Regions from separate parts of the Homo sapiens genome. Here region 1 is linked to region 2. The links come from fine-mapping of genetic effects on gene expression. Tissue or cell type: prostate. Region 2 holds a variant in brackets; the other region holds the start of a gene. All regions are shown on one strand. Distances are from middle to middle.

What was found. PIP is the estimated chance that this variant, and not a neighbour inherited with it, causes the effect.
Region 1: it holds the start of DMAC2, and the variant in region 2 is fine-mapped to the expression of DMAC2 in prostate (GTEx, PIP above 0.99).

Annotation. Positions count from the first base shown.
Region 1 is chr19:41,436,286-41,442,729 of GRCh38, forward strand. It overlaps DMAC2 (distal membrane arm assembly component 2), which reads right to left and starts at 3,627. Exons shown (of 6, transcript NM_018035.3): 1 at 3,597-3,627; 2 at 1,933-2,129; 3 at 107-187. The coding sequence starts at 3,614. RefSeq lists an enhancer at 3,362-3,531.
Region 2 is chr19:41,839,965-41,847,475 of GRCh38, forward strand. LYPD4 (LY6/PLAUR domain containing 4) reads right to left here and starts at 4,719. Exons shown (of 5, transcript NM_173506.7): 1 at 3,614-4,719. It overlaps DMRTC2 (DMRT like family C2), which reads left to right and starts at 5,078. Exons shown (of 9, transcript NM_001040283.3): 1 at 5,078-5,137; 2 at 7,461-7,511. The coding sequence starts at 7,465. The variant C/G (reference allele first, on the strand shown) is at 3,628.

The sequences.
Region 1 (6,444 bases), 400 kb before region 2:
CGGCAGAGACCAGGGGACTCTGAAGCCTGTGTGACTGCAGAACCTGGATGTTAGAGAGATACCCCACCACCTGCCCCAGCCCGTTCTAACACCTTAGCGGTCATACTTGACTGCGCCTCCCTGCTTCAGGATGAAAAAGGCACCTGCGCCGTATGGACCATGTTGCTTCTCCAGCCAGGTGTAAGATCTGCAGAGAAAATGGTAGCTAAGGGTGAGGCCTGGGGAGCACCACAGCCCTCACGATGCCCCAGTGCTGTTAAGAGGGGCAGAGTCCAGAGAACCAGGCACACAGACAGATTCAGTCAGGCTGAAAATATTTATTGCCCACCTCCTAAGTGCTGGGCACTGGGGGCAAAGTGGTGACCAAGGCAGATAACATCCCTGCCCAGTCTGGAGATTACTGCAGTAATCCAAGCTATTATACAGGGAGAAACAGATAACAACCCAGGAAATAACAGCAAACTGCAGAGAATGTCAATTCCATGACCAAACAAAGCAGAGAGGCTGACTGTGAGGGCTAGGGAGCAGAGGAGTGGGGATGGTGGAGGCTAACTGAGTTTGGGTGTTAATTGGAGGAGGTGACATTTGAGCAGGGATTTGAGTGGTGAGAAGGAACAGAGTATAAAGGCTCAGAGACTTGAATTAGGATGGTTGAATAAATAAGAAATAGGGATGTCATGCTGAAGGGGCCAGTGGAGTCCTGATAGGGGGTCTCAAAGCTCAGTAGGAGCTATGTTTTAGGCCTTGGAGATTGGCTCTTATTTGAAGGTTTTGAGCTGGTGATGATAAGATTCCTTCAGCTGCTTTGTAGATTATAAAAAACTATGGGACAGGCCAGGTGTGGTGGCTCACGCCTGTAATCCCAGCACTTTGGAAGGCCGAGGCAGGTGGATCATCTGAGGTCAGGATTTCGAGACCAGCCTGGCCAACATGGTGAAACCCCATCTCTACTAAAAATAGAAAAATTAGGTGTGGTGGCGCCTGCCTGTAATCTCACCTACTTGGGAGGCTGAGGCGGGAGAATCGCTTGAACCCAGGAGGTGGAGATTGCAATGAGCCATGATCACACCACTGTACTCCAGCATGTGCGACAGAGTGAGACTCTGTCTCAAACAAAACAAAACAAATTTTGGCGGGGTGTGGTGGCTCATGCCTGTAATCCCAGCACTCTGGGAGACCGAGGCAGGCGGATCACCTGAGGTCAGGAGTTCGAGAGCAGCCTCGCTAACATGGTGAAAACCCATCTCTACTAAAAATACAAAAATTAGCTGGGCCTGGTGGCGGGCGCCTGTAATCCCAGCTACTTGGGAGGCGGAGGCAGGAGAATTGCTTGAACCTGGGAGGTGGAGGTTGCAGTGAGCTTAGATTGCGCCACTACACTCCAGGCTGGGAGACAGAGCAAGACTCCATCTCAGAAAAAAAAAAAAAAGAGTATGGGAACAAAAACCCAGTTAGCTTATTGAGTGATTCAACTATAAGGGATCAGGCTACGAATGGTGAAGGCAGTGAGAACTGGTCAAATCTGAGATATTCTAGTATTTTATTGATGGTCTGGATGTGGAGGGCAGGGAAGCAAAGAGAGGAATTAGGGATGACTCCTTAGAATTTGGCCTGAACAACTGGGTGGGCAGCACCAGTGTTTACTGGGATGGGAAGGCTTGGGAGTGAGCAGATGTTTTTAGGGGAGAAATCAGGGTTTGGCTTTAGCCATGTTAGGTTTGAGATGCCAGTTAGACTCTGAGTGGAGCTGGTGGGTGGCAAACTGCCTATGTGAGCTGGAGTCCTTGAGAAGGGTACAGCCTGGAGATGGAGCTGCAAGAGACATCAAGGCTGGCACTGGAAGCCACAGTGCTGCCTGGGAATGGCAAGGACAGGACCTGGGCTCTGGTGGGCCAGGGTCTCCACAGGGTCTTGCAGACCAGGGATTCTCACCGATTTTTCTCATGCACCTTGTACATCTCCCTTTGGAGCAAGTAATCCCTCAGAGCCTCCACATCGTAGAAATAGTTGGTCAGGAACTGGAGTATTGTCCTTTTCTTCTTCTGATTGCCCTCTGGGGCCACTGCCGCACCCAGGCGATGGATGCCCCTGATACGCCCATTCCACATGGGGGCGACCAGGCGCAGGGACTGGGGAGGGGGAGAGGAAAGGAGCTGAGCCTGGAGCCTCCTGGGAGACACAGAGCTGGATCCCCCAGTTCTTGCTCCATGAACCTCAATCCCTCTGCTTCCCAACTCACCCTAAGTTCTTCCTTCAAAACTTCAAAACTGTCTTTGAGATTCCAAAAATTTCCCCATGTTTTTTCCAAGTTCCTCCTCCCCTTAGTGAACCCTAAATTTTCTCGACTAGCCATATATTGTTGATTTTCCTAAATTCTTCCTCTAACTTTCCCCCAAACCCTTATCACTCAAAACCTGCATTATTTGACCTCTTAATTTTCCACAGATTTGCCCCTTAATTACCCAATTCTTCTGCTGGGGTCTTCCCAAATGACTTCTTTCTTTCCCCAGAATATAATCTTAAAAACTTATCTCCAAACCTCAAGGAGAGGGTGCTCTGAGCAATCCCTAAAACCAACCAAGCTTGTCCAACCCGCCGCCTGCATGCAGCCCAACACAAACATGCAAACTTTCTTAAAACATTAGGAGGATATTTTTGTGATTTTTTTTTTTTTTTTTTTGGCTCATCAGTTATGGTTAGTGTATTTTATGTGTGGCCCAAGACAATTCTTCTTCTTCGAACAGCGTGGCCCAGGGAAGCCAAAAGATTGGACACCCCTGAACCGAGAAGGGTATAAAAAGCATGAGCTTTGAAGAGGAGAGTAAGAAAGTCGAGGGGTGTGGCCAATGGGAAGAAGCCCCCAAACTCTTCAATTTTGCTTTCAAGGTCTCCTCTTAATCTACCCCAATTTCTCTTTGCTTTAACCAAATTCTTTTTTTTTTTCAAATTATCTCGATAATTTTACCCAAACCCTTATTTTCCTCAAAAGTTTAAAGCTGCCAACCTCTTTAATTTTCCCTAAATTCATTCCTTGATTTTAAATCCTCTGAAAGAATATCTCAAATTCTCCTCTTAATTTCACCCAGATCATGCCCTTAGAACCTCCAAATTGACCTCTTGGTTCCCCCACCCATCATGCTTTTGAGTTTTCTGTAAAAATTCGTCAATCTCCCACTAACTTTCCTTACATTCATCCTTCGGTCTTCTAAGACCAAATCCCACATCCTCGAACAATCCCTTCCAAGCTCTCTTATCCTACAGGCCCCACCCTTGCCTGTCCATTAGCTCCTTGTGTCATCCCTCCCTCTGATTGGTTAGTCGCGTCGCTCTTCGGCAGCCACTCCCTCATCCCCATTGGATACTCTCAGCCAAGTCCCTGCCTCCTCTCGCTCGCTAAAGCGTCTCCTCCGCCTGCGACCCTCACAGATCCTTCCTGGCCCCCACTAGCCACAGGTTTGCACTCCCAGTACGGGGCTTGCCAGGCTTAGCCTGCTGCCTCACGGCTTTCTGCTCTCGTGGCCGCCAACAGAGGCCCTGAATGCGGAGGCTGTAGAGCGGACTTCAAATTTGGGGCTCTAGGAACTCCGGTCACTTACCGCCCAGGGAGCCGCCATCTTGCTAAGGTTTCGTAACCGGAAGGGGCCGGTCTTATCCCACGCTCCTGGTTCAGCGCGAACTTATTCTCCTGTGGCCACGCCCCGCGTTTTCTAACCGTCCTCTTAAAGGTGCACGCACTTTTTACTCTTAAAGGGTTTAGGGATTGCTCACAGCGCCCTCTCCCTGAGCTTCAAAACGAGACACAGGTCGGGCTCACGCACCTGTGAACCCAGCACTTTGTGGAGGCCGAGGCGAAAGCATCGCTTGAAGCCAGGAGTTCGAGACCAGCCTGGGCAACATAGGGGAGCCTTTATCTCCACAAAGAAATAGGGCAACCTTATATCCACAAAAAATAAAATGTTAGCCGGGCGTGGTGGTGCACGCCTGTGGTCCCAGCTACTCACGAGGCTGAGGCGGGGGGATCACTTGAGCCGGGGAGGTCGAAGTTGCAGTGAGCTGTGATTGCGCCACTGCACTCCAGCCTGGGTGACAGAGCGAGACGCTGTCTCTTAAAACAAAAAATTGAAAAACAAAACAAACCCCAGGACTCCACAATCTTTCCCTAGGAGAAGATGGGGTGTTCTTCCCGGCAGAGTACCTTTCTTTCCTGACTGCAATTGCAGTCTCCCCAAGCTTTCTTATTCTTCCAGCTTCCACTCACTACCTCCTAAAAACAGGGAATGAGGGGGCTGAAAAGCTGACCACGTCATTTTTAAAAATTAGGGTCAGGTAAGAGAGTGGGTGAAGAGGTTAGATGTCAAGGTTAGAGACTGAGGTGAGATCTCAAGACCAGTTTGGAGTTGAAAGCTAGATCGCAGCATGAAGAGCCATTGTGAAGTCTTGTGGATAGAATTATTCATTCATTAGTTCCAAGAATATTTACTGAGCACCTACCACGTGATGGCAGGCACTGTTCTAGATGCCGAGGTTACCATGGTGAGCAGGACAGACCCAGTCCCTCTCTCAGGAAGTCAACATTCTGGGCTGGGAGAGGATGGATGTGGGAGAGGATGAATAAGAAACAAAGGAATCAGCAAGGCAATTTTGATGAGAAGCAGATAAAAAAAAGTGACTGGGTGTAGGGCCATCAGCAAAGGCCTCTCTGAAGAGGTGACATTGAAGTAGAAGTGAATGATAAGGAAAGAGCCATTCAAAGATCTAGGGGAAAAGCGCTGCAGGGAGAGGTAGCCTCTAGAGCAGAGAGGCCTTGAGGTGGGAACCAGCTTGCAGACAGAGATAGGAGACTGGGTTGAGAGGTGGGCAGGGGCTGACGGTGCAGGCCTGGTAGGGTTTTATTCTATTCACAGTGGGAAGAAGGGAGTGTCAAAATCGGATTTACATTTTGTAAAGATTATTTCTGCCAGGTGGAGAATGTACCTTAGAGCAGCGGTCCCTAACCGTTTTGTTACCAGGGACTGGTTTCGTGGAGGACAATTTTTCCATAGACTGGGGGTCGGGGGTGGGGTGGGGATGGTTTTGGGATGAAACTGTTCCACCTGAGATCATCAGGCATTAGATTCTCATAAGGAGCAGGCAACCTAGATCCCCCGCACGCACAGTTCACAATAGGGTTTGCCTCCTATGAGAATCTAATGCCACTGCTGATGTGACAGGAGGCGGAGCTCAGGCGGTAATGCTCACTTACCCGCTGCTCATCTCTTGCTGTGCGGCCCAGTTCCTAGCAGGCGAGGGGCTGGTACTGGTCCTTGGCCCAGGGACTGGGGACCCTTGCCTTAGAGGGCAAGGGTGGATGCAGGGGACCAGTAAAAGAGGCTGCTGTAGCAGTCTAGGCAAGAGATGAATGGGGATGGGGCAGAGGGAATGGTGAGAAGTGCTCAAATCCTGGGCCTGTTTTGAAGGTTAAGCCAACAGATTGAGAAACTAAAAGCAGACGGGCGTGGCTGTGCACGTGAGGAAACTGGAAGGGCAGCAGGTTTAGGAAGGTGGGTGTGGCAGCTGAATAACGAACCCTCTCCCCATACCTGTGAATCCCTGGGCACTGTGACTATGTTACTTTCTATGGTAAAAGGGACTTGGGGCTGGGCGCGTTGGCTCACGCCTGTAATCCCAGCACTTTGGGAGGCCGAGGTGGGCAGATCACCTGAGGTCAGGGGTTTGAGACCAGCCTGGCTAACATGGTGAAACCCCGTCTCCACTAAACATACAAAAATTCGCCAGGTGTGGTGGCGTGCACCTGTAACCCCAGCTGTTCAGGAGGCTGAGGCAGGGGAATCGCTTGAACCCGGGAGGCGGAGGTTGCAGTGAGCCAAGATTGCACCACTGCAGTCCAGCCTGGATGACAGAGCGAGACTCTGTCTCAAAAAACAAAATACATATATATATATATTGTTCATTTGTTTATTTTAAGATGGAGTCTTGCTCTGTCGCCAGGCTGGAATGCAGTGGCGTGATCTTGGCTTACTGCAACCTCCACCTCCTGGGTTCACACCATTCTCCTGCCTCAGCCTCCCGAGTAGCTGGGACTACAGGCACGCGGCAGCATGCCCGGCTAATTTTTTGTGTTTTACTAGAGACGGGGTTTCACCATGTGGCCAGGATGGTCTTGATCTCCTGACCTCGTGATCTACCATTATATATATGTATATATATGCACCTTGGGTCTGAAGGAAGGGTCCAAGGCCGAGAGAGGCCTGCAGTGCTTCCCAGACTTTTCCACAGCAGAAGCCCTCACCCTCAACAGGGATAATATACCCATAGGCAAGTCCAGGGTCAGCAGAATTGGCTGCTTGGCCCTAGGCCAGCAGCCTGGACACAGGCACTCCAGCTAAGGGATTGCTGTCTTGGTGCCCCTGGGAGCCATTCCTGCCCCCAAAGGCACACTGGTGG
Region 2 (7,511 bases):
CTTGAACCCAGGAGGCGGAGGTTGCAGTGAACCGAGATCGCGCCACTGCACTCCAGGCTGGGCAACAGAGACAGAGACTCCATTTCAAAAAAAAAAAAAGTATTTAGAACTGAATAATAATAAACATATTACATAACACACACATTCACACACAGACATAGACACAGACAGACACACACATACACACACACACACACACATAAGTGCATGTAAAATCTGCTGTAAACTGAATAAGGTCTGAAGTCTAGGTAAGAGTACTGTACACCAGCCCAGGCATCACGACAAAATGCCATCTCTACAAAAAATACAAAAATTGGCCAGGCATGGTGGCATGCACCTGTGGTCCCAGCTACTTGGGAGGCTGAGGTGGGAGGACCACTTGAGCCCCGGGGATGGAGGTTGCAGTGAGCTATGACTGTACAAACAGTATTGTACAAATGTCAATTTCCTGCTCATATACTATGGTTATATAAGATGCCCCTACAGGGAAACTGGAGGAAGGATCCAAGGGACTCTATGTACCACTTTTGCAACTTCCTGTGAGCCAACAATCATTTCAAAATTAAAGGGTTTTTAAAATATATACAGCCGGGCACAGTATCTCCCGCCTGTAATCCCAGCACTTTGGGAGGCCGAGGCAGGCAGATCACGAGGTCAGGAGATCAAGACCATCCTGGCTAACACGGTGAAACCCCATCTCTAAAAACACAAAAAAATTAGCCAGGCATGGTCGTGGACGCCTGTAGTCCCAACTACTTGGGAGGCTGAGGCAGGAGAATGGTGTGAACCCGGGAGGCGGAGCTTGCAGTGAGCCAAGATTGCGACGCTGCACTCCAGCCTGGACGACAGAGCGAAACTCCGTCTCAAAAAAAAAAAAAATAAAATAAAATATATACATCAAAATTTGAGACACAGCTAAAGCAGTATTTAGAAGTAAATTTATACTTTTAAATACATGTATCAGGAAATGTGAAGCATTAAAAAATAAATATATTCATGAACTAGTTCAAGAAATTGTATAAGGAGCAACAAAGCAATTCTCTCCTACCCAAAAAAGAATGGAAATAAGGATGATAGCAGAAATCAATGAAATAGTAAACAACAACAAACATTATTACAAAAAAGATCCATTCTATGAAAAGATTTAGTTAGTTCGCTGGCAAATCTGATCAAGGGAGAAGATGCAGGCCGGCACAGTGGCTCATGCCTCTAATCCCAGTGCTTTGGGAGGCTGAGCCAGGAGGATCCCTTGAGGTCAGGAGTTCAAGACCAGCCTGGGCAACACAGTGGCTTATGCCGGTAATTCCAGTGCTTTGGGAGGCTGAGCCAGGACTGCTCGAGGTCAGCAATTTGAGACCAGCCTGGGCAACACCTTGTCTATACCAAAAAAAAAAAAAAGTTTAAAAATTAGCCAAGCATGGGAGTGCCTGTAGTCCCAGCTACTCAGGAGGCTAATGTTGAAGGATTGCTTTAGCCTCAAATCACAAGGTCAGGAGTTCGCGACCAGCCTGGCCAACAAGGTGAAACACTGTCTCTACTACAAATACAAAAATTAGCCCGGTGTGGTGGTACGTGCCTGCAGTCCCAGCTACTAGGGAGGCTGAGGAGGGAGGATCACTTGAACCCGGAAGCCAGAGGTTGCAGTGAGCCGAGATCATGCCACTGCACTCCAGCCTGGGCAATAGAACAAGACCCTGTCTCAAAAAAAAAAAAAAAAAAAAAGTGAAGAAATGCACAAACCCAGCAATAACCAAGGAAATGCAATCTGTCAAATTGTACATCTATCAGACTGGTAAGGATCAGAAAGCTGGGAAAAGACAAGTGTTGGCAGGTATGTGGGGATAAAGGAACCCTTGGCCCCTGATGCTCATGGCATTATTTGGAGGGCTGGGGAATAAAACACTATTTCTGGACTCTGAGAAACAAAGGAGTTGAGAGTTCTGACCAGGATCTCAGGCCCAAAGCAGCATTGCAGGGGTCTGACACTACATGGTCAAATTGGGTTTATAAATACCCATTTCCAGTATACCCTACATAGGTATTACAAAAATGTCCACCTTCATCTACAAAGGAACATGCACAATAATGCAGCATTTTTTTTTTCTGAGACTGGGTCTCGCTCTGTTGCCCAGGCTGGAGGACAGCTGTGCTCACTGCAGCCCCCACCTGCCAGGCTCATGCAATCCTCTCACCTCGGCCACCCAAATAGCTGGGACTACAGGTGTGCGCCAACACACCCAGCTTTGTAGAGATGGAGTTTTTCCATGTTGCCCCAGCTGTTATCAAACTCCTGGGCTCAAGCAATCCACCCACCTCGGCCTCCCAAAGTGCTGGGATTACAGGCATGAGCTCCCATGCCCAGAGAATGCAGCATTATTGTGGTGATGGTAGGTTGAGACAATGGGAGCTTCCCTCTCTGAGACCAAGTGAATGCAAAACATGCTGGGGATGTACGCTATGGAATATCACGCAGGAGTTGGAAGAAGTTGATTAGATGTACACAGGATGTGAGGCAGGGTACAGTGGCTCACGCCTGTAATCCCAGCACTTCGGGAGGCTGAGGTGGGCGGATCACCTGAGGTCAGGAGTTCAAGACCAAGCTGGTCAACATGGCAAAATCCTGACTCTACTAAAAATACAAAAATTAGTCGAGTGTGGTGGTGGGAGCCTGTAATCCCAGCTACTCAAGAGGCTGTGGCAGCAGAAGAATTGCTTGAACCCAGGAGGTGGAGGGTGCAGTAAGCCAAGATCACACCATTGCACTCCAGCCTGGGCAATAAGAGTGAAACTCCGTCTAAACAAAAAAAAAAAAAAAAAAAAAAAAAAAAAAAAGTACACATCATGACAGAATGACAGAATGTGTACATGGATAGATTGTAAAATCACAGTGCTGATTATTACAAATAGTATATAACATAATATCACTTGCATAAATTAAAAACTCAAACAGAGGTCGGGTGTGGTCGTTCATGCCTGTGATCCCAGCACTTTGGGAGGCCAAGGCAGACAGATCACTTCAGGCCAGGAGTTCTGGACCAGCCTGGTTAATATGGCAAAACCCCATCGCTAAAAAAAAAAAAAAAAAAAAAAAAAAAAAAAAAAAAAAAAAAAAACCCCAACAACAACACTACACACATCCTGGGAGAACACACACACAAACCAAAAGATACATATTAACCACCTTAGAATGAGAATTGCCTATAAGAAGGTTAGGGAATGAAAGTGGGGAATTGGTGGAAAATAACAGTGTAGGAGGGGGTACAAAGATCACTGACCTTGGCCTCAGAGACCCAGGTTGGAATCTTTACCCCTTCATTTACTAGCTGTCCAATTTGTTGAACTCAGAGCCTACTACCTTCTTTATAAAATGAAGTATAATACATCTCATAGGGTCATTGTGAAGATCAATAAAATTATTACCATAAGTATTAGGCAAATGCTAAGCTCTTTATAATCGTTGGTTACCCTGTTCCTCTACCACTATCCCTCCCTCCCACACACACTTCCTCTCACTCTCTCTCCACTACCTAAAGGATCAAGTTCAACCTCTTTAGCTGGCCTTTAAGCCTCCCCCGACCACACCCCACCCCACCCCAGATAAGCGCCACCCAACCTTTCCAATTTTAT[C/G]TAGGACAGCTCCCCTGCCCAGCAGTCCAGCTAGAGGTCACGTCGGCCACCCTTTTCTGCCTGCAATGCCTCAGACACACATGCTCTGTAACCCAGAAATCTGTGGCCAAGAAAGGTGCCAAGACCCGCAGAAAAGCTGGGACACAGGAAAGAGAAACGAAGGCTGACAACAGATCTCACGGGGGTGAGGGAGATTAGGCCAATCAGAGAAGACAGCACACGCCAGCCTCAGATGCAGAACAACTGGACCTGGACCTAACAAGCTGAGTACAAGTGGAGACGCAACCAGAAAAGATTGAAGTGAAATCCTCAAGCAAAAAAAAAAAAAAAAAAAAAAAAAAAAAGGATGGAGCAGTAGTCAGAGGGGATGCCACCCCTACAAAAGACAAACAAATTGATGGAATGGAACCTTGCAGGGAGAGAGAGGACCAGCAGAGAGAGGGAGGCGTAGGAAAATGAGGAGTGGGGCACAAAGGTGGGGCTCTCAGGGAGAAGAGGAGTCGATTTTAGAGGGGGAGAAGAAAAGGACACAGAGCTGGCTGTACAGAGAAAAGGGGCCAAGGCAGAGAAGATGGCGGGATGGTGTGAGACGGAGTTCACAGAAATACCCAGAGAAGGCGACGATTACACAGAGGAGCCCCCAGAGGGGCGAACTCTTGAGGAAGATGAACGCGGAGGGTGGAGCCAGCCAGAAATTCAGAAAAACTAGAGGCGTCCCCGGTAGCGAAGGAAGCCGGGAAGGGGCCAGGCTATCAGGGCATGAAGCACGGGAGAAAATGGGTCCGAAGAGGGAGAGCGTCCGAGAGAAAAGGAAAATCAGAGATTAGGAAAATCACAACCGACACAAAGACAAGAAGAGACACAAGGAAAGGGGTGCAATCTGAGGAAGGAGGGCCCGGTAAGCAACCCGGTAATCACAGCGCTGGGAGAGAACGCATAAAAGAAGGGTAGCTCAGGAGTTGTGGGGCACCGGAAGAGACATAACAGAAAACGCAGGCCTCCACTCAGCAAAAACAAGCCACGCGCGAAGTCGAGGTACAAGGCAAGGGAAGGCCAGAAACGAGGCAACCCGTGCACAGACCGGGCTTGGTCAACGCCCCAGGGGCGGGGCCAGGCGGGCCGTTCCTGGGGGGCGGGGCCAGCCTCGGTCCAATAAGGGGTACTCGACGCCCCATTGGCCACCTGCCTCGAAAGGGGGAAGACAGTCTGGGCGGGCAGGACGTGCGGAGGGAGAGGCAGCGGTGGCGCGAGGCTCAACTCGAAGCGCTATTGGTGGGACTGATAGTCTTGTGCGCCAAGAAGCTGGCAGAAGGGAAGGGGCGGGACATCAGTTCAGGATCTCAAACCGCATTGGTCGTCTGCCTCGGCTGAGAGAGGCGATGCTTGAAGTTCATTGGTCTTTGTGAGACAGGGTAAGAAAAGCAGCGCGAGCTTGGCGGTTCCTCTGGCCACTTTCTCACAGTGTCTTTGGGCGTCTTCTTGACTGAATCTGACTCCATTGGAGGCTGTGGTAACCGTGAACTAGCTGCACGAACACGGTCCCTCCTGCCTTTCCGTCCTCCTCCCTCTTAGCCGGACTCCCTAACCCAGGCATCCCCTCTCCTCCCCCTCGCGCCCCTCCCGCCCTCGCGCCCCCTCTCCCCTTCCCTGCCTCGCGGGCCCCTTGGCGCGTTCCCGGTTCCCCACTCGCTCCCTGGGGCACGGGAAGGGGGGAGGGGGACATGCATGAAATTAATTGTTGGTAGTGGCCACAGGAGCAGGAAGCGCTGGACACAGTGACTTCACATGTTTACACAAAAACCTGAATAAGGTGTGAGCGCAAGAGAGACATTAGTGCCCCAAGGAGAAGGTTTTTGGCCCAGATCAGGGCCTAGCACATGACAGGGGCTCAGTAACCATTTGTGGAATGAATGAAGGAGTGAAGGAAAATAACTTGAAAGTGGGGCAGGTGGCGGGTGCGGTGGCTCATGCCTGTAATCCCAACACTTTGGGAGGCCGAAGCAGGCAGGTCGCTTGAGGCAGGTCAGGAGTTCAAGACCAGCCTGGCCAACATGGTGAAACCCCATCTCTACTAAAAATACAAAAATTAGACGGGCGTGGTGGCACAGGCCTGTAATCCCAGGTACTCGGGAGGCTGAGGCAGGAGAATTGCTTGAACCCAGGAGGCGGAGGTTGCAGTGAGCCGGGATTGCACTACTGCACTACAGCCTGGGCTACAGAGTGAGACTCCATCTCAAAACAAAAAAAAAGAAAGAAAGAAAGTGGGACAGGGGAGCCAAGCATAGTGGCTCCAGCCTGTAGTCCCAGCTACTGGGGAGGCTGCGGCAGGAGGATTGCTTGAGCTCAGGAGGTGGAGGCTGCAGTGAGCCATGATCACGCCACTGCGCTCCAGCCTGGGCAACAGAGCGAGACCCTGTCAATAAAAAAAAAAAGAAAGTGGAGCAGGGAATCCATGAGAATAAGGTAATTATTGGGGGTGCAAGAGAGGGTTCTGATTTAAAGGGGTACAAGAACAAAATAAGACTAAAGGAATGCAAGGAGGCAGTTGCTTTGCAGGGCATAGATGAGACTAAGAATTGAAATTGAACTAAGAATTGAAAGGGGCATAAAACTACTGGTAGGCATTGGATGAATGCATGAGAGTGGGGTGAGCATTGTTGAAGAGGATGCCAGGAAACACTGTTGGGACGGAACAGGGTGCTTGTGAAAAGGGGATGTAGGACTCGCTGAAGGGGTATGTGAGGACATGAGTAGGTTGGAACCTAGGATGTGTGTGTGGGTGGGAAAGTGTTTGGATTGAAAGAAAAGAATGTTTGAATTGAAAGAATACAGAATGTCGGGCGCAGCAGCTCATGCCTCTGATCCTAGCACTGTGGGAGGCCAAGGCAGGAGGATCGCTTGAGCCCAGGAGTTCGAGACCAGACCAGCCTGGGAAACATAATGAGACCTTGTCTCTATAAAAATAAAAAACAATTAAAAAAAAATTTTTTTTTTGAGACAGAGTCTTGCTCCGTCACCCAGGCTAAAGTGCAGTGGCGCGATCATGGCTCACTGCCAGCTCTGCCTCCCGGGTTCACGCCATTCTCCTGCCTCAGCCTCTGGAGTAGCTGGGACTACAGGCACCCGCCACCACGCCCAGCTAATTTTTTGTATTTTTAGTAGAGACAGGGTTTCACTGTGTTAGCCAGGATGGTCTCGATCTCCTGACCTTGTGATCCACCCGCCTTGGCCTCCCAAAGTGCTGGGATTATAGGCTTGAGCCACCGCACCCGGCCTAAAAATTTTTAAATTAAAAAAAGGGGGGACGGGTGCAGTGGCTCATGGCTGTAATTCCAGCACTTTGGGAGGCCGAGACAGGCAGATCACTTGAGGCCAGGAGTTCGAGACCAGCCTGGCCAACATGGTGAAACACCATCTCTACTAAACATACAAAAATAAAAAAAAATAGCCGGGCATGGTGGCTCTTGCCTGTAATCCCAGCTACTCAGGAGGCTGAGGCAGGAGAATCGCTTGAACCCGGGAGGTGGAGGTTGCAGCAAGCCAAGATCGTGCCACTGCACTCCAGCCTGGGAGACAGAGTGAGACTCCATCTCAAAAAAAAAAAAAAAAAAAAAGAAAGAACACAGAAGAGGAAGAGGAGAGGGGTTTCTGAAGAAGGAAGATACCTGAGAAATGTCATGGGGTAAAGAGGGGAGAAAGCTGGGAAAGAAGCCAGAATCAGGGCGGGGTCTAAAGAGGGGCAGGATGGAGACCTGCAGGTGTGGTCTCCAGGGCAGGAGGGTTGTTAGGGGCAGGCCCACCTGGCTATGCTTACCTTCCACTCCTGCCCCTAGATCCATGGAACCCAGTGACATGCCTGCTGGCTACCACTGCCCCTTAGACTC